Linked DNA regions of Homo sapiens. The protein of the gene in region 1 binds, or shares a complex with, the protein of each later gene. Each region holds a gene or a part of one and is shown in the gene's direction. Other genes may lie near its edges.

Region 1 (7,178 bases):
GGCCAGCACATAGCAGATGTATGAAATTTGGAGTGTTAGACATAAACTTTTATTACCAAATTATAAATAATTTCTCCCACTTATAATGTTCACCTTTCAAGTTCATCTTGATTAAAATACAAGGGCAGCTTCACACCGATTTCACTAAATTTTACAGCTGAGAGAGGTTTTCTAGAGTTCACGGTGGAGTATAAAGCATCACAGCATTTGGGAGATTCTCCTTCCAGGAGCTCAGACTCTGATCCTATCTCTTTTAAAATTCAAGTCATGCCAAAATGATGGCTGATGAAGTCCGAACATTATTTAAACATCTCACATGTTACATCTGAAACCAAGCGCCCATGATGTAGAATATATCACTTCCTTGGGTAAGCAAAACGACATACTACTTTTTCTGAGAAATTTGCCCACCAGTCAATGAGCTTGTATCACTTCTTAGAAGGTATTCAACAACCAGAGAGTGTCTGTCTGTTTCCTTATTTTCTTTTTTCCCCTCCCTCCCTCTTTCTTTTCCTTCTTTCTTTTTCTTTCTTTCTTTCTTTCTTTCTTTCTTTCTTTCTTTCTTTCTTTCTTTCTTTCTTTCTTTCTTCTTTCTTTCTTTCTTCCTTCTTTCTTTCTTTCTTTCTTTCTTTCTTTCTTTTTTCCTTCTTCTTTCTTTCTTTCTCTCTTTCTTTCTTCATTTAAGAAACAGTCTCGCTCTATCATCCAGACTGGAGTGCAGTGGCATGATCTCATCTCACTGCAACCTTAGCCTGTCGGGTTCAAGAGATTCTCATGCCTAGCCTCCCAGGTAGCTGGGATTACAGGCATGTGCCACTACACCCAGCTAATTTTTTAATTTTAAGTAGAGACGGGATTCAACATCTTGGCCAGGCTGGTCTTGAACTCCTGACTTCAAGTGATCCGCCAACCTTGGCCTCCTAAAGTGCTGGGATTACAGGTGTGAGCCACTGCCCCCGGCCTCTCTTCATTTTCTATAACAAATAATTTTCATATCCCATGATTAAAGGCAGATAATGGTGGCCCCAAGTATCCAAAACTAGCACATCACAGCTTATGAGCTCCTATTGTACAGTCTGAAGGTCCAGGAAAGGTTCAGGTCCATGCCAGCACTTCATACCAGTTAATGCATTGCTCCAACAAGACCAGCCAGTATTCTTGGAAGCTTAACATCCATGTTACATATTAAAATCTGCTTTGGAGAGTGTTGGTCAATCCAATTACATGTTTGTATTTATCATCATCATCATCATCATCAACAACAACCACAACAACATCACAATACATTCATCTACATGTTCACAGGGCTGTTGGGTGTTTAATAAGCTAGACATGAGACCATCTTTTATGAATATGAAACATTGAAGGACATAGTTATTTAAAGGCATATGTACTATAGAACTGTAGAAGGGACAAACAATGAAGTGGCAAGAGTTCTCTTAGCATTTATATATCTGCATTTGTCTATTTTAAGCATAATAGCTTCAAGAGAATGAAAAGACAAGCCATAAACTGGGAGAAAATATTTGTAAAACACATATCTGATAAAGAACTATTATTCAAAATATACAAAGGACTCTTAAAACTCAACAAAAAGAAAGAACAAACTGATTCAAAATTGGGCCAAAGACCTGAACAACCAAAGATATACATATGGCAAATAAGTATATAGAAAGATCCTCCATATCATATGTCACTAGGGAATTACAACTTTAAACAACTATGAGATAGTCACTAAGCAGCTATTAGACTAGTCAAAATCCAAAGGACTGGAAGCACCAAATGCCCATGAGGATGTGGAACAATGGAAACTCTCATTCACTCCTAGTGGGAATGCAAAATGGTACAGCCACATTGTAAGACAGTTTGGCAGTTTCTTACAAAACTAAACATACCCTTGCTATATGATCTAGCAGTCATACTCCTTGATATTTGCCCAAATAAGCTGAAAACTTATTTCTATACAAAAACCTGCATACACATATTCATAGCAGCTTTATTCATAACTTCCCAAACTTGGAAGCAACCAAGATGTCCTTCTGTAGGTAAATGGATAAATAAACTGTGGTACATCCAAATAATGGAATATTATTCAGAACTTAAAAGAAATGAGTTGTCAAGCCATGAAAAGGCGCAGAGGGGTCTTAAATGCATATTTCTAAGTGAAAGAAGCCAGTCTGAACAGGCTACACAGTGGGGTGGTGCAGTGTATGCACCACTAACTGTGTACGGTATGATTCCAAATATATGATATTGTGGAAAAAGGCAAAACTTTGGAGACAGAAAAAAGATCAGCGGTTGCCAGTGGGGAGGAAGGGATAAATAGGTGGAGCACAGAGAATTTTTAGGGCAGTGAAACTATTCTGTATGATACTGTAATTGTGGGTACATTTCATTATGCATTTGTCAAAACCTATAGAATGTGCAACACCAAGAGTGAACCCTAATGTAAACTTTGGCCTTTGGATGATAATGATGTGTCAGTGTAGGTTCATCAGTCCTAACAACTAAATGAAACTAAACTACATAAGTTAAACTAAAGCTTGCCAAAATATTTTTATGACTTTAAGGCTCCTTAATAAATTAATGTTTACATTCAGGGTTTTGAAGACTAGTATTCACCAAAAGTCTTGCAGTGTTTTCTTTGCATCATAAAAGATGCTGAAAGCAAAAACCTGGGAAATACGGAAAATTGCCTTGTGAGTTAGTAAAAGTCATTTATAAGCTGCTGAGGGGCTTTTGGGAACAGCCACACTTTTTATAAGCTTGTTAGCTCATGAATTAATTCAGGATGCCCACCCCGTGTGTCAAACTGGGCCCTTACCCAGCTACTCCCCTTAGAGAAGGTTGCAGCTGCTCAGCAGATGAACTAGGCCCTTAAAACTCCTCATGGCTCCCTACCCACCACACTAGTGTTAACGGCTCGATTAGGGCTCTGTAGGAAAGGGAAAGAAGTTTGAATCAAAAATTTTCTTTTTTTTTTTAATAATTTAAACAATCAGTAAGGAATGTGCAATTTGATGTCGTTTGCAAAGAAAGTTTTTAGGAACAGGGCTTTTTATCCTATTATGTTTGTTCTTTGCACGTAATTATTTGATTTAAATGGTACTTTTCTTAAAATTTTTATTTACATTGTATTTTATATTGCAAGAACTTCAAATACAGCCCTCACAATAAATCAGTAACTGTTCGGTCTTTATCCAAACTGAACTTTTATAGAAGGATATAAGGAAGTCTCTATTCTTTAACAAATCATATCCAGTTGTTTTCTGTCCCTGATATCAATCAAAAGTTCATTTCTTCTGCCTTTAACCAAAAGAAGTTTACAAGGGAGGAACTCTTTATCTTCGAAAAAAATTTTGCATCTTAGATTTTATAACACCTAATGGGGTTAAGGATCTGTGTTGAAAGATCTTATCACTCTGTGTATAGTGTTACAAATCATAAATATAATTAAAGTATAAGTTTTCAACTGATGAGAGTATATGTGGAGGGGGAAAAACGAATCAAGTCCTGGTGTAACAGTTCTCTTCTTTTTCCCTTTCAATTCCATTAATAGAAAGAGTATTGAGAATTCATGCAAAATTCCAAACCAAGTTCCCATAGTAGCACTGAAATAAGTCTGCACACCATTTCCAATAGGAACTAGTAATGTAACACAATTAATGTCATTATAATTTGGAGTTACTTGAGTGATTTTGATTATTTTTGTATCAATTAACATTGCCATGGAAACAGTCTCTTGCTAAAATGGCTTAAGTCTTCACACATTTAATCAATATCCAGAGGTAGATTTAAAGACTTGAGGTGTTTCATTTATTTATTTATTTGCTTTAAACTATTCAAGGACGTTTCTGGGTACACAATGCCGTTACTTAAACAGTAAATTCCAGTTTCCTATGACTTCAAGTTATTTTTTACACTTCTGTAAATAAATCCTGCCCAAAAGATCACTTCTAGTTTCCTGGAATTTTGTTTTTGTTTTGTATTGTATTTGTTTTGTACTCAGATTTCTGTTAGAGGAACTCCACTGCACCAATTTTGCTACTAGACAAACCAGGAATCTTGGATTTGCGCGCTTTGGTGCTGACAGGCTTTTTCGGCCCCAGCGGGCTGCCGTAGCAGAGAAGAGCACTGATTGGCTGAGGCAGAAAAGTGCCCCTGCCTCGGCGCTTTCGGTTTTGGCTGGGATCATCCGCGGCGGCCGGGCTCGTGGGGCGCCTGGAGTGAGGGTTCTGGTTCCCGCCGGCGAGGTGAGCCGCACCGCTGCGCGGGCCGACGACGGGGCCGGGCGCAGCCCCAGGTTCGGTGCCCCAGTGTTCAGTCGCGCTGTGGAGCGGCGGCTGCAGCGGCCCTAGGCCGGGCGAGGCAGCCCCGGAAAGGGCCTGCGGTGAACAGGCTGGGGCTCCGGGAAGGGACCGCTGGGTGGCGGGTCCCCGCGAAATGCCGCGTCCAAGCTCTCCGCGCATGGAATGGCTGGGAGAGGTCTGATGGTGGGCGCCGGGACCGCCCTCAGCGAGGCGCCTAGACTGCGCGGAGAGGAGCGGCACCGTCCCGGCTCCTACCGAGTTGGCGTCCGAGATCAATTCAGGTTGTTGAAGTTCCCCAGGGAGCCCCGACGCTAATCCCAAGATTCGGCGGGAAAGCGGATCCCGAACCCAGGCCTAGGCTTCGCCTGTCTTCCAGGAGGGCTTCAGGGAATTGCGAACCCTCTCCTACATCGGGGTGGCTGCGCCTGACCACAGGAATTAAAGGCTGGACTCGCCTGTCTTACCAAGTTGTCAGGTCGAGGAACCCGATTGTATGGTCTTAAGTCCTATCGCCCAAGGTTTTCTGTGCGTATGCGTGTCCGCACACCTGCATAGCAGGCATTTTTAAGGTGTGTAGGATTAAGATGATGCGGATTACCCTGCCCCACTGCTCTTAGTAATACGTGACTATTGTAGAAAATTGCAAACATAGAAGACTTTAGTGAAGAAAATAATATTCACTGAACCCTTTCACCTACGATCATTTTCTCTTGTATGTGCTAGCTTCTACTTGAACTAAGAGTGTACATGTTTAATCACTTAACAGTGTAGTTTTCCACTTCCATTTAAAAACTCTTCCTAAATATTATTCTAATTTTGTATCTTCTTTTGATTGTCCTATCATTGTGGGTCCCAGTTTAGGTCCCGTAAATTATTCAGTCATTTCCCGATTGTGGGACATTAGATTGTTTTTGAATTTTTACATCATCTTAGCATCCCAGATAGTGCTTTGATAAACTCTTTTCCCCCTATTTTTTAGATTATTTCCTTGGACTAGATTCTCAGAAGTGAAATTATCAGATTAGATGCTGTCATCTGAAAGGTCTGTTTTAGGCCTTCATACACATTGCTGCAGTGTTTTCCAAAAAAGTTTTAGAGATGTTTGGTAATTTTACTTGCTTAAATATTGTGCAGAAATCTTGAGAGGCTTGTGTTTGTGGTGTGTGTGTGTGTGTGTGTGTCACTGGCGTTAATGCGTTAGACTACCTGAATGTTAGGGCAGGAAGAGACTTAAGTGGTCATCTGGCATAACTCCCTTATATTGCAGATGAGGAACCTGGGGCCATGAGAAGTGAAATTATGAGTTATCCAAGTCACACAGCTAATTAAGTAGCAGAGCTGGGATTAGAACTCAGGTTTCCTGCCTCCCAAGTGAGTACTCTGTGCTGTATCAGGCAGTCTCTCACTGAACTGTGGCATAGTAGATACTAGAATTTAAAAATTTGTTTACATCACCTGGGTTATTCTCTCCTTTTAAAAGTGTACTAACAGATTTTAATCATCGGAGAGACCTGTAACACTGAAAAATTGGAAAGTGATCATTTTCATGGCCAAGACTAGAAATCCATTATTTAGAATGGCAACCCCTTCAAGATTTTGACAGTTGTTTTCAGGTTCCCTATATGTTAGAATAAAACACCCCTGATTAATTATAACCTACACTCCATCATTTGGTTAGAATGTAGCTTTTGGTTATCATTTGCGGTACCTTGGAGATTTCTTTAAAACTCCTCACTTTAAAACCAAAGAACAATTTTTTTTATTTTTATTTATTTTTATTTATTTTTTTATTTAGGGCTTATAGCAGAGATTGTCAACTTCCATTGACATTTTGTGCTGGGCAGTCCTTTGTTGTGGAGGGCCGTCCTGTTAGTTGTAAAATGTTTAGCAACATCCCTGGTCTCTACCCACTAGGATAGCAGTAGCACCACCTTCCTCAGTCATGACAGTTCAGTGTCCCCAGATATTTCCAAGTGTCCCTGAGCAGGGTGGGGCAGGGTTGGGGGTACTGCCCCTAGATGAGAACCATTTGCTTATAGAAATTATCTGGAGAACTTTATAAAATGTAAAATACAGTGCCTTTACCTGAGTAGACTTCGGGAAAATCTGCATTTTAACAAGCATCTCTAGATTTGGAAACAGCTGGTTCTTGAATGACACAAACAGTTGTTTTCTCAGTTTTTGGTGCTCATAATAGAGATTACTTGGTTAGTATTTGTTGAAGTACATGCATGATCCTACTGGTCACTGTATCCATAGTTTGGGCTGATGGGGGCTGGACAGGGATTTTGCTTGGCACTGGCCTTGAATGTCTCTTCCACAGACTTGGGTAGTGTGCTTAGGTACCAGGGACACCAAGTGAGTAAGATATTTTCCCTGTCCCCAAGAAGCTTTAAATTCGCACGGGAGACCAGTCAGCAAATGGAAAAATTACGAAACAGCCTGATAAGGGCCATGACTGAGAGTGGAAAGAGGTGCTCTGAGTGGACTCACTTCGCCTTTGGGAGAGAGGGAGAGAAGTAGCCCCTGCTGCCGAGGAAGGAGGGATTGGTATGAAGCCTTCAAAAGACAGCGAGGAACTCCACTGTGTCCGAAGGGAGGATTTAGAGAGCTGTTCTTCTGCCTATCTGATCGCCTCCTCAGACACTGATCTATTAGTCTAGTGCTGCAATTACTTGGATTGTAATGTTTCCTTGCAATTTTTGCTTTTCAAATTCTTTTCACCCTAAACTGTAAATACGCCAGGAGTAGGTAAAAACTTACAGGTAAACATTGCCAAGAAATAAGGATTTTCATGTCTTCTGCTCAGTGGCATAACTCAAATCACATGAGATAGATTTCTTTGCATCTGTCCATTGTATTTCTCTG
Region 2 (7,951 bases), on another chromosome or scaffold:
ATTATAGGCACCCGCCACCACAGCCGGCTAATTTTTGTATTTTTAGAGATGGGGTTTCACCATGTTGCCAGGCTGGCCTTGAACTCCTGACCTCAGGTGATCCGCCTGCCTCAGCCTCCCAAAGTGCTGGGATTAAAGGCATGAGCCACCATCCCTGGCAAAATAATTCTTTAATTTAAATTACTGTATGGTTTCTGTCTCCCTGTCGAACGTAGATTGATACAAGTGTGAAGGTATATGTGTGTGTTTTTAAAATGAGGGAAAAGACATGAATTTTGACTGCATATATTTGGTGAGCCCAGAGATAAGCCAAATAAATAATGCAAGTCAAAACTATTAATTATGAATACTCAGCTGGGGCTGTGACCCTGAATCTAGACACAGAAATCTAATGGTCTACATCAGAGGTTGGCAAACTACAGCCTAAATGCCAATCCTTGCTGATCACATGTTTTTGTGTGGCCTTGAGCCACACAAAATGTAAATGGTCTTTACATTTACATTTACACAAAATGTAAATGGTCTTTACATTTTAAATGGTCGCAAAGAATTTAAAGGATAATAATATTTTGTGACATCTATTTGTATCCATAAATAACATTTTATTGGAACCCAGCCACACTCATTTGCTAGGTATTGAGTATAGCTGCTTCCATGGTACATGGTAAAGTTGAGTAATTGCAACAGAGACCAAATGGCTCGATAGCCCTAAAATGCTCTCTGCCCTTAACAAAAAAAATATTGGAAACTAACCAGTCTTATACATATTTTAAAAAAGTTTGCCCGCCCCTGATCTAGACTGAAACTTGGGACCATTTTATCAAGTAAATACCAGATGAATTGCCTGTTTAATCCCCGGCTCTGAATTCATGACCTCTTTTCCCTTATTTGTAGATTGGCAAACTAATTGAGTTGCAAGGCATCTAGAATAGCCAAAACAACCTTGAAAAAGAAAAAGGAGGAGGATTCACACTTTTTCTGACTTCATATAGATCAAAGGAATAGAATTGGAAGTCCAGAAATAAAACCATGTGTCAATGGTCAAATGATTTTCCACTAGGGTGCCAAGATTATTCAGTGGGGGAAAGAAGAGTCTTTTTAACAAATGATGCTGAGCTAACTGTATATCTACTTAGAAAAGAATACAGTTTGACCCTACCTTATACCATATATAAAATATGAACTAAAAATATATCAAAAATCTAAATGTAAGAGCTAAAACTATAAAACTATTAGAAGAAAACAAAGGGGTAAATCTTCATAATCTTAGATTTGGCAGAAAAGATTTTTCTTATTGCACCAAAAACATGAGCAACAACAACAACAAAAAGATAAATTAGACTTCATCCAAATTAAAAAACTTTTGTACAGGATATTACCAAGAAAGTGAAAAGGCCAGGCATGGTGGCTCATGCCCGTAATCCCAGCAGTTTGGGAGGCTGAAGTGGGTGGATTGCTTGAATCCAGCTTGGGCAACGTGGTGAAACCCTGTCTCTACAAAAAAAAAAAAAAATAACAAAAATTAGCCACCGTGGTGGCATGCATCTGTAGTCCCAGCTACTCGGAAGGCTGAGGTGGGAGAATCGCTTGAGCATTGGAGGTCAGGCTGCAGTGAGCTGTGATCGCACCACTGCACTGCAGCCTGGGTGATGGGGTGAGACTCTGTCTCAAAAAAAAAAAAAAAAAAAAAAACTCACAGAATGGGAGAAAACCTGTATAAATCATATATCTGACAAGGAACTTGTATCTGTAATGTAGAAAGAATTCTTACAACTCAATAATAAAAGTCAAATGGTCCAATTAAAAAATGAGAAAAGGATCTGAATGGGCATTTCTCCAAGGATGATATATAAATGGCCAACAAGCACATGAAAAGATGTTCAACATCATTAGTCATGAGGGAAATGCAAATCAAAACCACGATGAAATTGATAGCACTTCACATTAAGATGGCTTGAATCAAAAAGTCAGATAATAACAAATATGGGTGAAGATGTGGAGAAATCAGAACCCTCATACGCCACTTGTGGGAATGTATCATGGTGAAGCCACTTTGGAAAACAGTCTGGCAGTTCTTCAAATGGTTAATCAGAATTATCATATGACTCAGAAATTCCACTCCTATCTGGATACCAAAGAGGAATGAAAGCATGTCCACGTGAAGACTTGTACACGATGTTTACAGCAGCATTATTTATAACAGCCAAAAGGTGGAAGCAATCCAAATGTTCGTCATTTGATGAACTGATAAAATATGGTAGTTCCCTCCTTATCTGAGGAGGTTATATTCCAAGATCACCAGTGGATTCATGGAACGGCAGATACTACCAAACCCTATATATACTATTTTCTCTTATACATACATAGCTATGATAAAGTTTAATTTATAAATTAGGTACAGTAAGAGATTAACAATACTAATAGAACAGTTATAAAAATATACTGTAATAAAAGTTATATGAATGTGGTCTCAAAATATCTTGTACTGTACTCACCTATTTTTATACTGCAGTTGATTGTGGGTAACTGAAACCACAGAAAGTGAAAGATGGATATGGGGGGACTACTGTACATCCATACAATGGAATGTTATTTGGCCATAAAAAGGAATGGAGTATTGATACGTGTCATGACATGGATGAGCCTTAAAAACATTGTGCTAAGTGAAAGAAGGTAGTCACAAAAGACCACGTATTATTATATGATTCCCTTTATATACATTTTCTAGAATGTCCTTCATAATATTCATCCTTCTGATAGACCTGAGTGTAGGTTCAGGTCTCTGCTCACATACCACTCCTCAGAGAAGTTTCCCCTGACCACCTAGCCAAAACTGTACCCTATCCCTCTCAGTTCCTCTGCCTTTATTTATTTTTTTCATATCACTCTAATGTTACATTGCATACTTATTTATTTGGTTTACTATGTCTTTCTCAGTAGGATGTAAAGCTCCGTGAGGGAAAGGACTCTATCCCAATAATGGTGCATGGCCTTAGTAGATGCTAAATAAAAATGATTTTAAATGCATGCATGAATGAAGTGTTAGGCAGCTGGGTAAGGTGGGGGCAAATGAACAGCTGAGGAGCCAGACGGACCTATATTCCCACTCTGACTCCGCCACTTTGGGCAACATAATTCATTTCTATGAGGCTTCGCCTCTTCATCTACAGGTGACAGGAAACGGGACAACAGAACACACCCTTTAGAGATGGTGTGAAGATGGCAAAGCACCAAGGTGGAAGCTCTCCTTGCTGGGTTTGAGGAACAGCAAGGAGATTAGTGTGACTGGAGAAGGATGAATGAGGGCAATGTTGACGGAGATGAATGAGGTTGGAGAGGAGCGCAGAGCTAGATTTTATTCCATGTGTGCTGGGAAGTTTTTGGTAAGTGGAGACCAGGACATGACATCATCTGATATCCCAGTACGTTTAGAAGGATCCCTCTGGCTGCCGTGAGAACAAGAAAGGAAGCAAAGAGACAAGTTACGGGCTCGTTCAATGATCCAAGACAGAGACGATGGTGGCTATGACTAGAGTGGACGCAATGGAGTGGGTGACAACAATCATATTCAAGATAATTTGAAGGTGGGGGCCACAGGATTTGCTGATGAATTTGATTATTCGATGGCAGAGAAAGAGAAGAATGAAATATGCTTCAAATTTGTCATTTTCTTTTTTTTCTTTTTTAATCCAAGAAACTTCGGGGATGGGGAACACTGGTGAAGTGGTTTTAGAAACAGTGAATAGAATCAAGAATTCAGTTTTCAACATGTTAAATTTGGTATACCTATTAGACATTCACATCACGCTGGCAGCTGGATATAAAGGGCCAAGAGTTAAATGAAGAGACCAAGGTTAGAGGAACAAACTTGAAAGCCTTGGGTGTATATGCTGTATTTAAAAGTCATAGGAAGGGCCCAGTGTGATGGTTCACGCCTGTAATTCCAGCACTTTGGGAGGCCAAAGTGGGTGGATCAGGAGTTCGAGACCAGGAGTTGAGGTCAGGAGTTCGAGACCAGCCTGGCCAACATGGCAAAACCCCGTCTCTACTAAAAATACAAAAATTAGCCGAGTGTGGTGGCACAGGCCTGTATTCCCAGCTACTCGGGAGGCTGAGGCAGGAGAATCGCTTGAACCGGGGAGGCAGAGGTTGCAGTGAGCCGAGATTGTGCCACTGCACTCCAGCCTTGGTGACAGACTGAGACTCTGTCTCAAAAGAAAAAAAAAAGTCATAGAAAAAAAATAAATGTCATACGACTGGATGCGATTATCAGCAAATATGGGTAGAGCCCTTATTTTGTGCTAAAGTGTTCTAGGCACTACAGCAATGAGTAATACACAAAGAGAAAAATTCACACCCTTATGGATCTTACATTCTAATGGGGAGGGGATAATAAAATAACTAACAAAAATATACAGCGTGTTAGATAGCAAGAGGGAAATACAGGAGAGATGAGGATGAGGTGGGTGGGAAGGTTACAGGATGGCTAGGGAAATCCTCACTGGGAAAATGTTATTTAAGCTTAAACCTTGAAAGAGGTGAGGGCAGCAGCCTTCTGGTATACCTTGGGGACTACCATTCCAGGCAGAGGCGAAAGCAAATGCAGAGGGGCTGAAAAAGGAGCACGTCCAGCCAGTGGAGGGAAAAGCAAGAATAGTGACTGTAGAGGAGAGAGCCGGGGAGGGTGATGGGAAATGAGGACCGAGAGGTTAATGGGAAAGGCGGGGTGAAGAGAAATGAGTGTGACACAGAGCAGCTCTCAGTACGGATTTAAGCTAGGAAGGTGTCCAAACAGGAACTTAAGGCTCTCCTTACGTCAAAGCCGGATGTTAACGCCCAGTCCCCAGGCCCCGCCTCTGCTCGGCAGAAGCTCCGCTCCGGGGCCGGAACTCCAGGGCTAGTGAGCTGGACCGGAAGTAGGTTTCTACCCGACCGCATTTTACGTGGTGCTGCATTTCCGGTAGCGGCGGCGGGAAATCGGCTGTGGGAGAGAGGCTAGGCCTCTGAGGAGGCGAATCCGGCGGGTATCAGAGCCATCAGAACCGCCACCATGGTAAGGAGGGCACAGGCTGGCGGCGCGGGAGCTTCCGAGTCTGTTGTGGAGTGGGAACCGCGACTGATCGGGGAGGAAGCCGTGGGTTGGAGCCACTTAGGGCGGTGAAGGCCTGGGCCGAGGCCGCTCGGTCTGGGCGGGAAAGACCAGGACCTTGGCGGTTCGGCTAGGCATGGGGTCGAGGAAAAGGTTGGAACCGGTGTCGGAGGCCGAGGTCGCTCGGCAGGGGCGAGGGTAGAACCGCGGCTCTCGACACCGCTGTAGCCATAATTCCTGGGACCCAGTAGGCACTAAGTTAACTTTTGCCGAATAAATATATGTCCCGGGCTTCGGAGCAGGCACTGGAGCCGCAGGGGGACCCGGTAAAAGGCTCAGACTTGCGGAAGTTTGTGAGTCTGAGAAAGAGTTGGCGGAAGTGGGTGGAAGGGGCTCGTGGACCACGCTAGAGTCTCGCTAGGTCTGCTGGATGGAGAGGAGGGCGGAGGAGGGTGATGGCGAATGGAGGAAGAGCTCCACTCAGTTGCTCATCACGTTTCCGTGTTTGCCTGTGCCTGACTTCTCAGGCGCTGGGGCTACTCTCTGAAATATGTTTGCTTCCTTCACAGAGGTAGCTGGGGACACATAATATAATTCAGTGTGGTCATTCGGTAAAAGTAACGGCAGCGGGGCGGGGTAAGAATGTTTTCTCAAATAGATGGTTCCTGAGCAGATTCCTAAAAGATTAGCAAGAATGTTCCCGGCGAAAATGGGGGGAATATTACAGACCCGGAGAACTGAAGGAACAAAGGCTGAAGGGTAACAAGATTTAAAAAGTTACTGGATTTTTCTGCGTTTGTTGACTGAGAAAAAGTTGCTGGAGGAGAAAGGAAGAAAGAAGGGAAGACGGGAAGAATTGGCAGGAGGCTAGTTACTAAAGGCCTTGCATGTTAATTTTACCTCAGTGGTGGTGAGGCATGTCATTGAAGGATTTAATTTAATTTATTTTTATTTTTTTGAGACGGAGTTTTGCTTTTGTTGCCCAGGCTGGAGTGCGGTGGATCGATCAGGGTTCACTGCAAACTCCACCTCCCGGGTTCAAGCGATTCTCCTGCCTCAGCCTCCCAAGTAGCTGGGATTGTAGGTACCCGCCACCACACTTGGCTAATTTTTTGTATTTTTAGTAGAGACGGGGTTTCACCATGTTGGCCAGACTGGTCTCGAACTCCTGACCTCAGTTAATCCACCCACCTTGGCCTCCCAAAGTGCTGGGATTACAGCCGTGAGCCACCACACCCTGCCCACTGAAGGATTTTAACCAGCAAAATGACATAAGCTTAGTGGTGTTTAGAAAGATTGCTCTAGCTCTGGCATGTATATTCGATGGGACTGGAAGCAGGGAAACCTGGTAGGATATTGTTTGGATAACTGGTTAGAATAGGCGCTGGATTCATTTTGTCTAGGTTCCAACACAGCTTCCCAGCTGTGAAACTGGGCAAGTTACTTAACCTCTCCTAGCCTCAGTGACCTCATCTGTAAAATAGGGATAATAATGGGCCCAATTTTGGGGATTAAATGAGATGTACTGTGCTTATCACAGTGCCAGATACACAGTGAGCACCCAGTAAACATTAGTTGAGCTGGACCAGTGAATGTTGCCCTAAAGGTTCAGATCCCTTGTGGTTAGAAGCTGGTTAAAATGGTCATTGAATGGAAACTGAACCACCTAACCTGAGGGAGGCTCGCAGTATCTTTGTGTGGAGTCAAGTTTTGTTTTTGTTTTTTTGAGATGGAGTCTTTCCCTGTCACCCAGGCTGGAGTGCAGTGGCATGATCTCAGTTCACTGCAGCCTCCACCTCCCAGGTTCAAGCGATTCTCCCATCTCAGTCTCCCGAGTAGCTGGGATTACAGGCACCTGCCACCACGTGTGGCTAATTTTTGTAATTTTAGTAGAGACGGGGCTTCGCCATGTTAGCCAGGCTGGTCTTGAACTCCTGACCTAAGGTGTTCTGCCCACCTCGGCCTCCCAAAATGCCGGGATTGCAGGAGTGAGCCACTGAGCCCGGCCATGGAGTCAAGGTTTTGATCTGCATATTTGCAGGTTCAGAACTTTGTTGTCTGAGCTCACAGAGATGAACAGATGTCCATAGAAGGCACTTGGTGGGTTAGGACTTGGGTATAGCAGTCAGACTGATGGGAGGATGATATACAGATCAAATGCCAGGTGATTTGTTTATAGAGAGAAATACAACTGCTTAGGGTACCTGACAGTTCACAAAGTGATACCTATATAGTCACTTCTTTATTTTAGCACATTGGAACCCAGGTTATGAAAGCAGAAATGTTTGTTGGGTTAAAGACCATTATATGTCCAAACTGGTTAGCACCCTAACCATCAGAAGTTTCCCTCTGCCAAATATAGTCTTGGAGGCACACTAACAAATTCTTGATATGTGGATTTCATTTTTCACCTTGAAGCTGATCTCCTTCCTGATAACAAGCTTCTTGTTGATTAGATTTTTAGTTTCAGCCCTATTCTAGCTCTTCCTTTACTCAGTGTTTTTAATGAGATTTGAATGTTCCATAGCACTTGAGTCACATATCTATAATCTGCACACTGGTAGATGGCTCTAGTATGTATGCATTGGATTATTTTGGGGACACCCTATACTCTCATCCCTGCAACTGACACGACAAGGAGAAAGGCAATTATAATATGAGAAAGACCGATTTCAAGGGAAGAGAGAATAGCAGATTACTGGGTAGAGGTCAGGGCTAAAACAGGGTGGCATGGGAGAATTCCTAGGAAAAGGCTGTGGGTGGGAGACTGAGCTAAGAATCTGTTGAGAAAGTTGGACACATGGACAAGAACGCCATGGGAAGTTTTGGGGAGGGCCAGAGGTGCTTGGGTCCAAAAGAGCA
Region 3 (7,022 bases), on another chromosome or scaffold:
GACAAGGCAGTTAAGGGTTTCACAAAGGAGAGGTTCTGTTGATTTCCCCCTGAGTCTAAACTGGGTAATGAGGGACATAACAGAGAATGATGGGTGTGAGGACAGGGCCTGGAGTCGTGATGTGGTTGAAGAATTACTGGATTGAAGTTAATACAGTCAATGAGCTAGAAAGAAAGGCTGGAGAGAACAGAAAGGATCCTTGGAATTGAGGGGTTGTTTTGTTTTGTGATAGTGTCTCACTTTGTCACCCAGGCTGGGGTGCAGTGACTCTATCTCAGCTCACTGCAATTTCCACCTCCTAAAGGTGCTCTGTCCACATACAGTCATTGGGGGTTAGGGCTTCCCGATATGAATTTAGGGGTTACACAATTCCTAGATAGGACAATATATTGTCAAGATGTCCATCTCATGTAGTTCATTTCTAGGTTAAATGCAACTCCAGTAAAAATCCCAATAGGGATTATTTTGGAAGCTGGAAAATGATTCTGAAATTGGATAAAGTAGGGGCATTGTGGCAGTGTGGGATTGCATAAGGATAGACTAACAGAACAGAGAGACCAGACAGCGGGGCCCCGAGACAGAATCGTGTCCCAGTGGGAAGAGTCGCTCGTCAGTGCAGCGAGTGGGCGTGGGACAGTCAGTTATCTATTTGGGGAAAAAATGAAATTGGGTTTATACCTCACACCTTGCAGATAGATTAAGAACTTCAAAGTAAAAACTTCACATTTCGGAATCAAATTAAGGAAATTACATTTATAACTTTTTGGTAGAAAAGATTTTTTAAGTTGTCAGCATAGCCAAGGCAGGAGAATTGCTTGAGGCCAGGAATTTGAGACCAGCCTGGGGCAACACAGCAAGACCACCCCCCCTACCAACCCCATCTCTAAAAATGTTTTTTTAATTAGCTGGGCATGGTAGCATGTGTCTGAAGCCTCAGCTACGCCGGAGGCTAAGGCAGGAGGATTGCTTGAATCTAGGAGTTCGAGGTTATAGTCAGCTATGATAGACTATAGCTGACTATATCACAGATAGCTATGATAGCCTGGGTGATAGAACAAGATCCTGTCTCAAAAAAAAAAAAAAACCAAGAAACCCACAGGTTCCATGGGTGAGTTTCTTCAAGAAACCATGAAGAAAAAAGTGAACGTGTAACTACATAGAAATTGAGAACGTGGCCGGGCGCGATGGCTCACGCCTGTAATCCCAGCACTTTGGGAGGCCAAGGCGGGCGGATCACGAGGTCAGGAGATGAGACCATCCTGGTCAACACAGTGAAACCCTGTCTCTACTAAAAAAAATACAAAAAAATTAACCAGACGTGGTGGCGGGCACCTGTAGTCCCAGCTACTAGGGAGGCTGAGGCAGGAGAATGGTGTGAACCCAGGAGGCGGAGCTTGCAGTGAGCCGAGATCGCACCACTGCACTCCAGCCTGGGTGACAGAGCAAGACTCCGTCTCAAAAAAAAAGAAATTGAGAACGTAAGTTTTTTGTTTTTTGTTTTTTTACAAAACATACCATGAAGAATATAAAAAGGCAGACCAAAAAGAGAAGATATTTGCCCATATATACCACCAAGAATGGGTTGGTGTCAAGAGTATACAAACAGACAAAACAAATCAACACAACAGGAAAATAGGCGAAAGATGTAGATAAGACAGGCAGTTCACAGAAGAGAAAGCCTAACTCACCAGGAAAATACCCGGTGAATCCAGTTTCAGGAGGGATCACAGAAAGGTGAACCAAAACAGTGAGGCACCTGCCACCTGCCAACAATTCCGCAGAAAGGTCCAAGCCTGACAGTAGCGAGTAGGAGTAAAGGACATGGAGCGGCCAGAGTCCTCAGCCACGCTACTCACAGCCATGGGCAGGAGTCTAATCAGATGAGAGGGAATGTGTGCGTGCCCGGGGCCCACCCCACACCTCTCCCGAGTGTGCCCATGTGCACCAGGAGACATTGTCAGTGGGCCTGCAGCCGCAGTACTTGGGACAAAAAAAGTCCATCCTCAGTGGGCTAGAGAGCCAGATCAAGGAGCATCCAGCTCACGGGCTGTGATTCCATAGTGGAAACTGATGAGCTACAGCCGTGTGCATCAGGGTTACTCTCAGGGGCACAGATTTTTTTACAAAACAAATCACAGAAGAGTCATACAGTGTGACTCAGGTTATAGAATAATTAATACACAACAAAATAACTGTTCAGGGGCAGGTCCTTATGTGCTAAAGCCATGAAGACAAGCCGGTGAGTCATGACCATGGATGGGGAGGGGACACTCAAGTCTGGGCAGGGCATTAGTGATGCTGCCCCAGCCCCAGGGAGAGGGACATGGGTGTGTGTTTAGTTAATGTTTTAAAAACTATATCAGCCGCTGGGTGCGGTGGCTCACACCTGTAATATCAGCACTTTGGGAGGCCTAGGCAGGTGGATCACAAGATCAGGAGATTGAGACCATCCTGGCTAACATGGTGAAACCCCCTCTCTACTAAAAAAAAAAAAAAAAAAAAAAAAAATTAGCCGAGCATGGTGGTGCATGCCTGTAATCCCAGCTACTCAGGAGGCTGAGGCAGGAGAATCACTTGAACCCGAGAGGTGGAGGTTGCAGTGAGCCAAGATCGTGCCACTTCACTCCAGCCTGGCCAACAGTGAGACTCTGTCTCAAAAAAAAAAAAAAAAAAAACCATATCAGCCGGGTGTGGTGGTTCACACCTATAGTCCCAGCACTTTGGGAGGCTGAGGTGAGTGGATCACTTGAAGCTGGTTTTGGGACCAGCCTGGGCAACATGGTGAAACCCTGTCTCTACTAAAAATACAAAAATTAGCTGGTTGTGGAGGCATGCACCTGTAGTCCCAGCTACTTAGGAGGCTGAGGGAGGAGGATCACTTGAACCTGGGAGGTGGAGGTTGCAGTGAGCCTATATCGCCCCATTGCACTCCAGCATGGGTGATAGAGTGAGATGGTCTCAATAAATAAGTAGCATATGATGCATTAGATATACCTCGTTTTATGTTTACAATGTTCATTAAAAAATAAGTGTTCCTGGCCAGGCGCGGTGGCTCACGTCTGTAACCCCAACACTTTGGGAGGCCAAGGCAGGCAAATCACGAGGTCAGGAGATGGAGACCATCCAGGCTAGTACGGTGAAACCCCATCTCTACTGAAAAAAAATACAAAAAAATTAGCTGGGCGTGGTGGCGGGCGCCTGTAGTCCCAGCTACTCGGGAGGCTGAGGCAGGAGAATGCTGTGAACCCAGGAGGCGGAGCTTGCAGTGAGCTGAGATCGCGCCACTGCACTCCAGCCTGGGCGACAAAGTGAGACTCTGTCTCAAAAAGAAATAAAAATTAAAAGACAAACAAACAAACAAATGTTCCTGGATGTCCTGGAAGACTTTTTTTTTTTTTTTTTTTGGAGACAGGGTATTGCTCTGTTGCCCAGGCTTGAGTGCAGTGGCAAGATCACGGCTCACCATAGCCTCGGCCTCCAGGCTCAAGCAATCCACCCACCCCAGCCTCCCAAGTAGCTGAGACTACAGGCATACACCACCATGCCTGGTTGATCTTTGTGTTTTTTGTAGAGACTGTGCTTCACCTTATTGTCCAGGCTGGTCTCGAACTCCTGGGCTCAAGTGATCCTCCAGCCTCGGCCTCCCAAAGTGCTAGGATTATAGATGTGAGCAACCACCCGGCCCCTGGAAGAATTTTTTTTTTTTTTTTTTTTCGAGACGGGGTTTCACTCTTGCCCACTCTTTTGAGTGCAGTGGTGTGATCTTGGCAGCCTTGATCTCCCAAGCTCAAGCAGTACTCCCACCTCAGCCTCCCCAGTAGCTGGGACTATGGGCGTGTGTGACCACAATGTCTAATTTTTATGTTTTTTGTAGAGATGGGATTTGGGTATGTTGCCCAGGCTGGTCTCGATCTCCGGAACTCAAGCAGTCCACCCGCCTCAGAAGATTTTTTTAAAAAAATGAATGTAATATAAAATGAAAGAGGGGTGCAGAAGTGGACATAGTGACTCGAACCTTCACTGAGGAGTGAGGACTTTGCTGTCTGGGCTGCAGGGTTGAGGGAGAAGTTTTTTAAAGAGGGGAGATGGTAATCATTGTGTGTGGCTGGGCATCTGCGACAGGAGGGAAAGCAGAGGGTGCTGGTGCCCGTGTGGGGGTCGCTGGATTCAGTGCTGGCAGCATGAGTGAGTTCTCTTCCCATGTCACGGAACCTGCTTTCTTGGTGAAGCAGGAAGCGAGAAGCTGGGCTGTGGGAAGTCAAAAGCGTGGGCCACCTCACCACCCTGCGGGTTCTAGAAGTGCTGTCTAGAGTCCTGAAACCGGAGTTTGTCGGGGGAGGGGCAGGTGGCAGGAGGGAGCCTGGAGGAAGGAGTTTGAGGCTGAGGTAGTGTGTGAGGGGCTTTGGAGGGGGATTGGCACAGGCCTGGTCAGGAAGGCCCTGTAGGATGTTGGGTATTCATTCAAAGGGCATCCAAACCCATTGATGGGTTTGGAGCAGAAGAGTGACCCCAGTGAAAGAGGTGCAGAGTGGAGTTAGGCGGCAGATAGCAGCTGGGCCTGCATGGGCTGTGGGCGTGGCCTGTCTGGCTGCTGCCAGGGAGGACCCTTAGGTTCCTGGGTCTCAATGGCATCACCCCAGAAACTGCTGGGTTTGCCCACAGCCGCTCCCTCCCCCAGGTGGTGGAGATTGTGAAGAAGCTGGAGTCTCGCCAGCGGGGCTGGGAGGAGGATGAGGATCCCGAGCGGAAGGGGGCCATCGTGTTCAACGCCACGTCCGAGTTCTGCCGCACCTTGGGGGAGATCCCCACCTACGGGCTGGCTGGCAATCGCGAGGAGCAGGAGGAGCTCATGGTGCGTCTGGGGCGGCCCCGCCCTCTGCTTCCCTCGGCTGGGTGGGCTGGCTGGGGCCTGGGCCGACCCTGGTCTTTTGTGCCCCAGGACTTTGAACGGGATGAGGAGCGCTCAGCCAACGGTGGCTCCGAATCTGACGGGGAGGAGAACATCGGCTGGAGCACGGTGAACCTGGACGAGGAGAAGCAGCAGCAGGATGTGAGGGCCGCGCCGCTGGGGGGTGGGCGTTTGGGGGTGCTCAAGCTGGAGATGAGCACCGGGCTCGGTGTCCAGAGCCTCAGCCTCCTCATCCAGAGTGGGCTCTGCAGACCTCCCAGGGCGATCTGAGGAGTAAATGAGGAAATTAAATGTTGTGGAGGGCTGGTGCCTGGCAGGTGGTGACCAGTGGGTGGGGCTGAGAAGAGCCGGTATGGCCTGCTAACCACCCCCGCCACGTGTCCCGTAGTTCTCTGCTTCCTCCACCACCATCCTGGACGAGGAACCGATCGTGAATAGGGGGCTGGCAGCTGCCCTGCTCCTGTGTCAGAACAAAGGTAGGGAGCTCAGGGCAGCCATGACTTGGGTGGGCTTGGGTGCTGCTGCAGGTGCAGGCAGGGCCCCCTCCGGTCCCCTCTGCTGCCCCTTTCTCTCAGTCCCAATGCTGGAGCCAGCTGTCCGGCCCAGAGCCACTCCTTCCCCTCCACTGTGGCATCTGTCCGTCTGCTCTGCCTTTGAGGCTCCACACCTGCTTGGGGAAGGAGAGGGGAGTTGAAACTGTTCCAGCTGTGGCACAGAGAGCCCTGGTGTTAGGACCCCAGCTCTGCCATTTCCCTGGCCAGTGACCCTTGGCAAGGGGCTCATTTCTGCATCTTTGCTTTGCCTGTAGAACAGGCCTGATGGCTTTCCAGAGGCAAGGAAAGGGAGGTGCCCCCACAGGGCCTGCTCTGCCTTCTCAGGCGGCCCTGGAGCTGTGGCTCTCGAGGGGTTGGGAGTCTCACAACCCCTCCATCCCTAGGGCTGCTGGAGACCACAGTGCAGAAGGTGGCCCGGGTGAAGGCCCCCAACAAGTCGCTGCCCTCAGCCGTGTACTGCATCGAGGATAAGATGTGAGTGTGGTGGGGCCTGTGCAGGGCTGAGGGGCCTGTGCCAGCTTGGAGCTTCGGGACCACAGCAGGCGGCAGCTCCTCACACTAAGGCCTCCTCTGTCTCGGGCCAGGGCCATCGATGACAAGTACAGCCGGAGGGAGGAATACCGAGGCTTCACACAGGACTTCAAGGAGAAGGACGGCTACAAACCCGACGTTAAGATCGAATACGTGGATGAGACGGGCCGGAAACTCACACCCAAGGAGGTGAGCAGGGCCTTTTGCAGGCGGAGGCCCGGCCTGCCACAGGGAGGCCAAGCCCAGGGCCATGCAATGCCCCGGGCCATGCAATGCCCCAGGGTCCTGGCTCCACCAGCCTCTGGCTGGGGGCCTGGTGAATGCCACGGATGGGGAGGGGGCCCTCAGGGCTGAGGAAGGCTGTGCCTCAGTTTGTCTCTAGTGGGCACAGCAGTCTCTTTGCAAGCCTGGCAGGAGGGTCAGACAGGCACTCGGGACCTCTGCCCTCCTGTCCTCACCTGCGTGAGCCCTTCACTGGCTTTCCTGGCCCGCAGGGCCATTCCAGCGTCCAGGCCCTTCCAGCACTCTCGTAGGCCGCCCGACCGTCCTGCCCTACCACTCAGCTGCCCCCTTGCTCTCTGGGGTTTGTCTCCCTGCAGCCCCAGCCCCAGCCCCAGCGTCCAGGCCCAGCCCCTGCGTGGCAGGTCTCCAGGTTCCCCATGCTCTGCCCCCATGGCAGCGCATCCACTAGCCAAGCTGGTCTCCCGGCCTCTGCTGGGGCCCTGCAGGGTGCCAGCGTCTGTGCTCTTTTCCCATCCCCTTCCCACTGCACCCCAGGCCTGGCATTGGGGTCAATCAACACCCGCCCTGTTATTATACACCTTGTGGGCACAGGTGGCTCCGGCCCCACCCAGGGCCCTGCATCTCCTCTCATGCCCCGCGTCCCCAGGCTTTCCGGCAGCTGTCGCACCGCTTCCATGGCAAGGGCTCAGGCAAGATGAAGACAGAGCGGCGGATGAAGAAGCTGGACGAGGAGGCGGTGGGTGCCCTTGGGGATGTGGGGGGCCCTGTGCCTGCCGGGGCAGGGG
Region 4 (7,483 bases), on another chromosome or scaffold:
TGAGGAGGGTGCCCCTAAAATCAAGATTTCTGGATCTTACAATGGTAGTTAGCCCTCTAATAATAGGCAAAGATGCTAAACACTTCAATTTCTACTAATCTAAAAAAATGCACGTAGGAGGATACTTCAGAGGCATCACAAACTTTTCTAGTTGGTTAAAAAGCACAGCTTTTATTTCCGTTTGAAGAGAAAGGTAGAGGAGTTAAAAGGGAAAGGGGGATAAAGGAAACACAAAAACTCTGAATCAAAAGGATGTTCATAGTATTCAAAAGCATCTAACAATAATCTGAATGTCCAACCATGAGATAATTGTTAAGTAACTTATGGCAGAGCCACACAACAAAATATAATTGAGTCATCCTTTAAGATAAAGAAAAACGATATATGATGTAATGTTACTCATGCAAAGTTGATTTTACAGTATGCTTTCTGCTATATAAAAAACAGACTAGAAGGAAACAGACCACTATTTCATGGTGGCTATTTCTGGATGGCAGAAATATGGGTGACTTTCTGTTCTCTGCTATTTTTTGGTCCCTAAGCATCTAGAGACTCTTTTCCAGGACTCTCCAAAATCTTGAGTTATCTAATATGCCTAACCAGACTCCTTGAGTTCAGTGTTCTTTCAGTAGGGCAGGAATTACCACTGTGGTCTGCTTGCCCATCTACTGGGATTTAATAAGAACACCGGAGTAAACCTTCCAGCAGCAACTCATAGCACTCAGAATAAAATTCCAACTCCTTAGCTTGGTATCCAAGCTCAGGCCCTTGCTCACTTCTCCTACCCAGCCCCTCGCTCGCTGTGTCCAGCCAACTGGCCAAGTTCATTCCCTCCTAAGAGTGTTTAAACACACTGTTCTCTCTGCCTAGAACTCTTTTCCCCAGAACTTCCTATGAATGGCTCAAAATTACACTAAATGCCTCAAAATGCCACCTCCTTACAAAGGCCTTCCCTGACACTGATTCCCATTTAGCTGCCTCTCCCCCAGCCCCATATAAGTTTGAGGGTTTTTCTTTTCATCTATAGAAGCATTTTCTGCTATGTACCCAAATAAGTTTTATCACAGCAGTCTTAGCACAGGGTGATAGCTCTTATCATCATGTGAATCCGTTTTTTTTTAACTTGTTATCTGCTCTAAGTACCCCTCCCCCCAGATTATAATCATGAGAGCAGGTGCCTCATCTGTCTTGTTCAATATTATCCTAGTACCTGGAACAGTGTGTGAAAATAGTAGGCGCTCAATAAACAGCTGTTGAAGGAATTAATGGATATCACTGAAGGTGTTAACACAGAGAAGAAATGAAAAGAAACCAGAGGTGCTTTAGTAACACAAAGGAAATCATGTGGAAGCCTGTTTTCTTTTCTCCTATTTGTCAAAAGCAGCCAAGTATCACCTTCATTTGCATGTACAGGGGTGCTATTAAAACCTACACTATTACAGTGTTAGCAACTACACTGACAGTCACCAAATTATTGTCATCTGCAGCCCAAACCATACTTGCTAAGTCTATGCTTCCCCACAAAACCACCAAACCACAACAAAGGTTGTAACTCTGCAGATCCTGGAAGCTGCCTTGGGAACTGACTGCTAGCTCCTCTGGCTAGCAGAATAAACTTGGGTGCATCTTTACCTCCGTTTAGGCTGAATGACACCAGCTAGCCCAACTAATTTACCTAACATGGGTAAAGCTAAAGCTCTTGGCTTTATATGCTATCCCACTGAAAACTCACAGCCACCCCGCAAGGCAGTTATTACATTTCACAGAGGAAATTCAGAAGGGCTAAAACATTTGTCCAAAATAATTCACCCAAGTGCATAAAACTAAGAATTGAAGCTCTACCAAGCTGGAACCGAGGTGAAGTGTTGAGCTGGGAAGAATACAGGTAGCATTTCCATCAGATTAAAACCGTAAATTTTTAATTGCCATATATCCAAATTACATTCTGACTAGAATACCGGCCCCTTTTTGTGACCCCTTGCTAAAATACCAACCATCCTTTAAATCACAGATCAAACTACTTCAGAGAGCGTTCCCCGATCACGCCAGTCAAACTTGATTAATCCTTTGGAAGCTACAAAGCCTTGTACCTTCTTCCACAATATTTAGCACACTTTGCCTTGAATGTTTTACATGTAAATGTCATGTCAACACTACTCTATGATCCTCCAAGATATGTTTATCTCTCATGTCACCTCATTCATGTACAGCACATAGTAGATACTCAAAAGATGTTATTTGAATGAGTAAATGAGTGAATAAAATGGAACTCGTAATATTACATATGAGGTAAATCACCTCCTAAGTTTACGAATTATTACCATTTCACTATTTCCTAATGGATGATGAATTTATAACCGGTATAGAAACAGAATCTAGTGTGATAGCCTTTGCCGGTTACCTAGTCTAATCTACCCAGTTTTTTCAGGAGACCCAGAAATTCCTTCTACAGCCTGCATTTTGCAATTATTTAAAATATTTACTAGCCGGGCGCAGTGGCTCATGCCTGTAATCCCAACACTTCGGGAGGCCGAGGCAAACGGATCACCTGAGGTCAGGAGTTTGAGACCAGCCTGGCCAACATGGCGAAACCCCATCTATACAAAAATACAAAAATTAGCCGGACATGGTGTCAGGCACCTGTAACACCAGCTACTCGGGAGGCTGAGGCAGGAGAATCACTTGAACCTAGGAGGCGGAGGTCACGCCACTGCACTCCAGCCTCAGCGACAGAGTGAGACACTGTCTCGAAAAAAATAAAAAATAAATAAAATATTTATTTAGCATTTAGCCCTACCAATCCACGGGCCCTGCATCCACAGATTCAACCAACCACAGATGAATATATTTCGGGAAAAAAAATACAAATTTAAAAAATACAGCATGACAACTATTTCCATAGTATCCACATTGTATTAGGTATTATTAGTGATCTAGAGATGATTTAAAGTATGTCGGAGGATGTGCATAGGTTACATGGAAACACTAGGCCATTTGATATAAGGTACTTGAGCATCACAGGTTTTAGTATCCGCGGGGTATCTGGGAAGGACCACCTTAGTTTGCTCAAGGAATGTCTAACTTGAGTTTTGAAGAAATAGAAAAAATCAGCCCTGGTAAAAGCCATGGGGGGTTCACTCTAGGCAGAAGGAACATCAAAGGAAAAGACTCAAGGAATAACTTGGCATATTTGAGGAAGAGAAAGGAGGCCAATAAGGAGGGTATCTGGCAAGGAAACAAGTGGTAAGAGAAACAGGAGAGGTAGCAAGAGCCAAAACATGTAGTATCTTGTAGGCCAGGATAAAACAACTGGATTTTAAGCTAAGAGCAATGGAAAACCAAGGGGAGTTTAAAGCAGGAGCAGGGCATGATTTTTTTTTTTTTTAAGATTATTTGGGTTGCTGGATGCAGAGCTGGGAGGCCAGTAAAGAGGAAACTGCAGTCACTCAACTGAAAGGTGATGATGACTTGGACAGGGGCTGTGGTCATGGAAATGAAGAGAAGTGGACAAATTTGAAATACACTCTTGAGGCTGAACTGACTGGACTTGCTGACGGACTGGATGTGTGGACATAAGAAAAAGGTGGGCTTTGCTTTATAACAAGTATTGAGACTGGAAAAACGGAGGAAAGCATAGATTTAAAGAGGAAAACCATGAGTTCTGCATTGCCCATGACAAATGTAAGAAGCCTATCAAATATCCATGAGGGGAAGTCAGGTGGGATCCCACTGTGGAACTCTGGGTGAGACTCAGCTGAAGTTATCATTCGGGAGTCAGCACACTGCATCACTCTACGTCCTGGTCCGTCCGTCTGTCTTCCTGGGACACAAATAACTGCCTTCTCCGAGTTCAACCCTGAACATCTGTATCCTCTGGACAACGGGGAGCGGGAAAAAAGCTACGCAGGAGCTTGGATCGGGCGAAGCTCGCGGGAAACCGCTCTGGGTGCGCAGGACAAAGACGCGGGGACAGCGGGGAGGGCCGGCCGCAGCCTGCCGGGCTGCCCCCACGGCGCGGAACGCGCGCAGCAACCTCCACCAGGCCTCCGCGTCTGGACTCCCGCCCTGCCTCTGGGCCTCCTCCGCCCACCGGCGGCGTCTCCCGCGAAGCCCGCTGGGCCTCGCTCTCACCCTCCTCCTCCTCCTCACGCCGGGCCTTGCTCTTGGCCTTGGATTTCTGGCTGCGCAGTTCGCGTCCCCGCGGCTCCCCGCCGGCCGCGCGTTTCCGAGCCATGTTGCTTGTCTGGGCAAATTCCACTTCGCGAGTGACGCACCCGGCCGCGATGCGCTAGAACGCCGGCCCCGCCCCGAGGCGGTGCGCTTGGCCACGCCCCTTCGTTGGAGGCCTAGTCACGCCCCTAAAGGAAGCTCCACCCCATACCCGTGGCCACTAAAAAACTGCGGGAAGCAGGAAAGAGCACAACAGGTTTCTCTCTATTTCCGGTGTATTGTATCCTCACGTTTCCGGAGATTGACGTTGCTCTTGTGTTCTCGCGAGAGGCGGGAAAGGGCGCAGGGTTTGAAACATGGCGGACGACGTAGACCAGGTAAGTGTATTTTAAGGAGGTCGCTCGAAGGAGCTTCTTGTACTAGGCTGCTTTTTCCAGACTCAGGAAAAATGGCCAGTCGTGCCTCCTCTCTCCAAGTCACCATGGCCTAATCCACCCTGTCCTTTCCGTAACCCCCCCTCCGAATTTTGCCGTAGGCCCTGAGACCTTTTCCTGTTAGAAGCCCACCTGATGACTATTCTCACACTCTTCGCTTCATTTTTTTAAATCTGTAGATTATTATCCTTAGCTACCTCATGGAGCTGTCAGGATTCCAATAGAAAGCCAGGTAATAAAGTTAGGAGTTGTTATCATTAGTGAGCGCAACAATTATTTATTCATTCAGCAGATAGAGTGAACATCAGCTTTGTATGGTTAGGCACTGTTCTAAGGGCCAGGGACACTGACATCGACATATAAGAGATCCTTGCCATTACTTGGAGCTTATATTTGCGAGGAGAACAGATAAAAGTAAATATAAATATGTAAGACTTCCAGGAACTGTGATGTGCTGTGAAGGAAACAAGGAACTGGTATGCAGAATAACAGATGGTCCTAGAAGCTTTTTCACCTGGTCTTTTTCTTCCTCAAATATCTTTGGAGATCATGCCACAACTTAAACTTTCTACTGAAATCTGACCTCCTCAGAGAGGACTTCTGCCCAAATAGCACTCCCGCTACTCTGGTTACCCTGCCTCATTTTTCTTCATAGAGAGTTATTTTTTCATATTAAATGTATGCATCTTTGTTTAATGTGAATCTCTCCCCACTAGAATGTAAATGCCATAAGAGCAGGGATTTTGTTTTGTTCATTCTTTTGTCTTTGGGGTTTAGAACAGTGCTGGAAACACTCAAAAAATATTTGAGTGAATGAGTTAGATGATCAGAGGAAGCCTCTTTGAGAAGCCAATATTTAAAGCTACAGGATGAAAAGAGCAGACAGTGGGCATCCCAGACAGAGGCTTAGGTAGCAGTAGGGCTTTTTCATGTGCATATTCTTACAGTATTATAATTATTTGTATGCCTCTCCACAGTAGAATGAGCTCCTTGAGGGTGGGGATTGTGACTTCTCTATCATTGTAATCTAACAGTTGGTTATCTGATCCTTTAACAAACACTTGTTGAACTGAGGGACATAGGGACCAGTTGAGTTAGGTTATTTTTTTCTCTCATCAGGCCTTTTGAATCTTCAGAGCCTGTTACCAATTCAGTTACCTTCCTCCACTGGCCTTGTGTACTTACTGAAGAAGCTCTCCTTGAATAATCTTTCTAACTCTTAGCGGCTGCAACCATCCCTTCCATGTGGGTGACCCCAAGTCATCCTAGCCCTGACCTCTAAAACCAATGTTTCCAGCAGTTCTGTAATAATATAATATTAATAGGAATCTTTTCTTTTCCTTTTTTTTTCTATTCTTTTCTTTTTTTTGGATGGAGTCTCACTCTATCGCCCAGGCTGGAGTGCAGTGGCGTGATCTCAGCTCACTGCAACCTCTGCCTCCTGGGTTCAAGTGATTCTCCTGTCTCAGCCTCCCAAGTAGCTGGGACTACAGGTGCGTGCCGCCACACCTGGCTAATTTTTGTATTTTTCGTAGAGATGGGGTTTCACCATGTTGGCCAGGCTGGTCTCAAACTCCTAACCTCAGGTGATCTGCCTTTCTCAGCCGCCCAAAGTGCTGGGATTCAAGCGTGAGCCACCACGCCCGGCCAATAGGAACCATTTCTAAATATTAATATTTTCTGTTTTCCTGGCACTGTTTTTAAATGCATTAACTAGTTTAATCCTCATAAGAACCCAGAAAGAAGGTTGTGGCTTTCTCAATTACAAATGAAGAATCTGAGAATTACAGATGGCATGATTTTTAATCTCAGTTCATAAATGTCAGGTCACAGCCAGGAGTTGAACCCGGACTGCCTGACTCCAAAGCCAGTGCTTGCTTGCCTTTTTTTTTTTTTTTTTTTTTTTTTTTTTTTTTTTTAAAAAAAAAAAAGACAAGAGTCTCACTCTGTTGCCCAAGCTGGAGTGCAGTGGCACGATCTTGGCTCACTGCAACCTCCACCTCGCCAGGCTCAAGCAATCCTCCCACCTCAGCCCTTGGAGTAGCTGGGACTACAGGCATGTGCCACCATGCCCGGCTAAGCCAGTGCTTTCAACCAGTGTTCTATACTGGCTACTAAATATATTTATCTTATTCACCAGTTGGCAGCCTAAACTCAACCTGTGCTGAATTCATAATCTTCCCATAAACCTACACCTCTATTTGGCATTCTGACTAGTGTATGGTAGGCATTAAGTGAGTGTTTTTCCAATGATTACATAATATTTGAGATAAAGCTAAAGTCCCTGAGACCCTATGCCCTGAAATTGGGTCAGGCAGTTTGGATTTTGAGGGAACAAAGTATAGTCATGATTATTTTGCTGTGTAACTTCTCATGTATGTGTGTTTTAACCTACATTTATATAGCACGTATTATGTGAAAAGCTCTGTTCTAAGCCTTCATGTATATCACTTAAGCCTCACAAAAACAGTATTAGGTAGACACTATTATCTCCATTTTACAGATTAGGAGACTGAGGCAGAAAAAGGTTAAATAACTTGCCCATGGTCACACAGCATAGCAGTGATTTAAGCACTACTCTGACTCTAGTACTACATTACTAATCCTGTTTCTTTTATCAGCAACAAACTACCAACACTGTAGAGGAGCCCCTGGATCTTATCAGGCTCAGCCTAGATGAGCGAATTTATGTGAAAATGAGAAATGACCGAGAGCTTCGAGGCAGATTACATGTAAGTAAATTTATCAAGTTACCTTGAAATCAGATTCCTTCCTACCCCCACTCCCTTGAAATGTAAAACCTGTCCAGAGTGAAAGGGTATTTTGAAGGAAGAGAGGGTGGTGGAAAGTCACCCATATCACATAAGCCAAATAAAGCG

Evidence for each region.
Region 2: LSM6 (region 1) and SNRPB share a complex: the UniProt entries of both Homo sapiens proteins name them as parts of the U4/U6-U5 tri-snRNP complex.
Region 3: LSM6 (region 1) and SART1 share a complex: the UniProt entries of both Homo sapiens proteins name them as parts of the U4/U6-U5 tri-snRNP complex.
Region 4: LSM6 (region 1) and LSM3 share a complex: the UniProt entries of both Homo sapiens proteins name them as parts of the precatalytic spliceosome.

Annotation. Positions count from the first base shown.
Region 1 is NC_000004.12:146,171,559-146,178,736, forward strand, and holds the start of LSM6 (U6 snRNA-associated Sm-like protein LSm6), read left to right. Parts: upstream 1-4,159; 5' UTR 4,160-4,253; exon of another isoform or gene 4,254-4,879; intron 4,880-7,178. UniProt on the Homo sapiens protein: Plays a role in pre-mRNA splicing as component of the U4/U6-U5 tri-snRNP complex that is involved in spliceosome assembly, and as component of the precatalytic spliceosome (spliceosome B complex).
Region 2 is NC_000020.11:2,467,790-2,475,740, reverse strand, and holds the start of SNRPB (small nuclear ribonucleoprotein-associated proteins B and B'), read left to right. Parts: upstream 1-4,951; 5' UTR 4,952-5,050; coding exon 5,051-5,053; intron 5,054-7,951. UniProt on the Homo sapiens protein: Plays a role in pre-mRNA splicing as a core component of the spliceosomal U1, U2, U4 and U5 small nuclear ribonucleoproteins (snRNPs), the building blocks of the spliceosome.
Region 3 is NC_000011.10:65,971,717-65,978,738, forward strand, and holds part of SART1 (U4/U6.U5 tri-snRNP-associated protein 1), read left to right. Parts: intron 1-4,662; coding exon of another isoform or gene 4,663-4,678; coding exon 4,679-4,852; intron 4,853-4,939; coding exon 4,940-5,050; intron 5,051-5,297; coding exon 5,298-5,385; intron 5,386-5,846; coding exon 5,847-5,937; intron 5,938-6,047; coding exon 6,048-6,183; intron 6,184-6,883; coding exon 6,884-6,973; intron 6,974-7,022. UniProt on the Homo sapiens protein: Plays a role in mRNA splicing as a component of the U4/U6-U5 tri-snRNP, one of the building blocks of the spliceosome. May also bind to DNA.
Region 4 is NC_000003.12:14,174,335-14,181,817, forward strand, and holds the start of LSM3 (U6 snRNA-associated Sm-like protein LSm3), read left to right. Parts: upstream 1-4,482; 5' UTR 4,483-4,526; coding exon 4,527-4,547; intron 4,548-7,225; coding exon 7,226-7,336; intron 7,337-7,483. Other genes in the region: XPC (DNA repair protein complementing XP-C cells), read right to left, coding at 4,132-4,234. UniProt on the Homo sapiens protein: Plays a role in pre-mRNA splicing as component of the U4/U6-U5 tri-snRNP complex that is involved in spliceosome assembly, and as component of the precatalytic spliceosome (spliceosome B complex).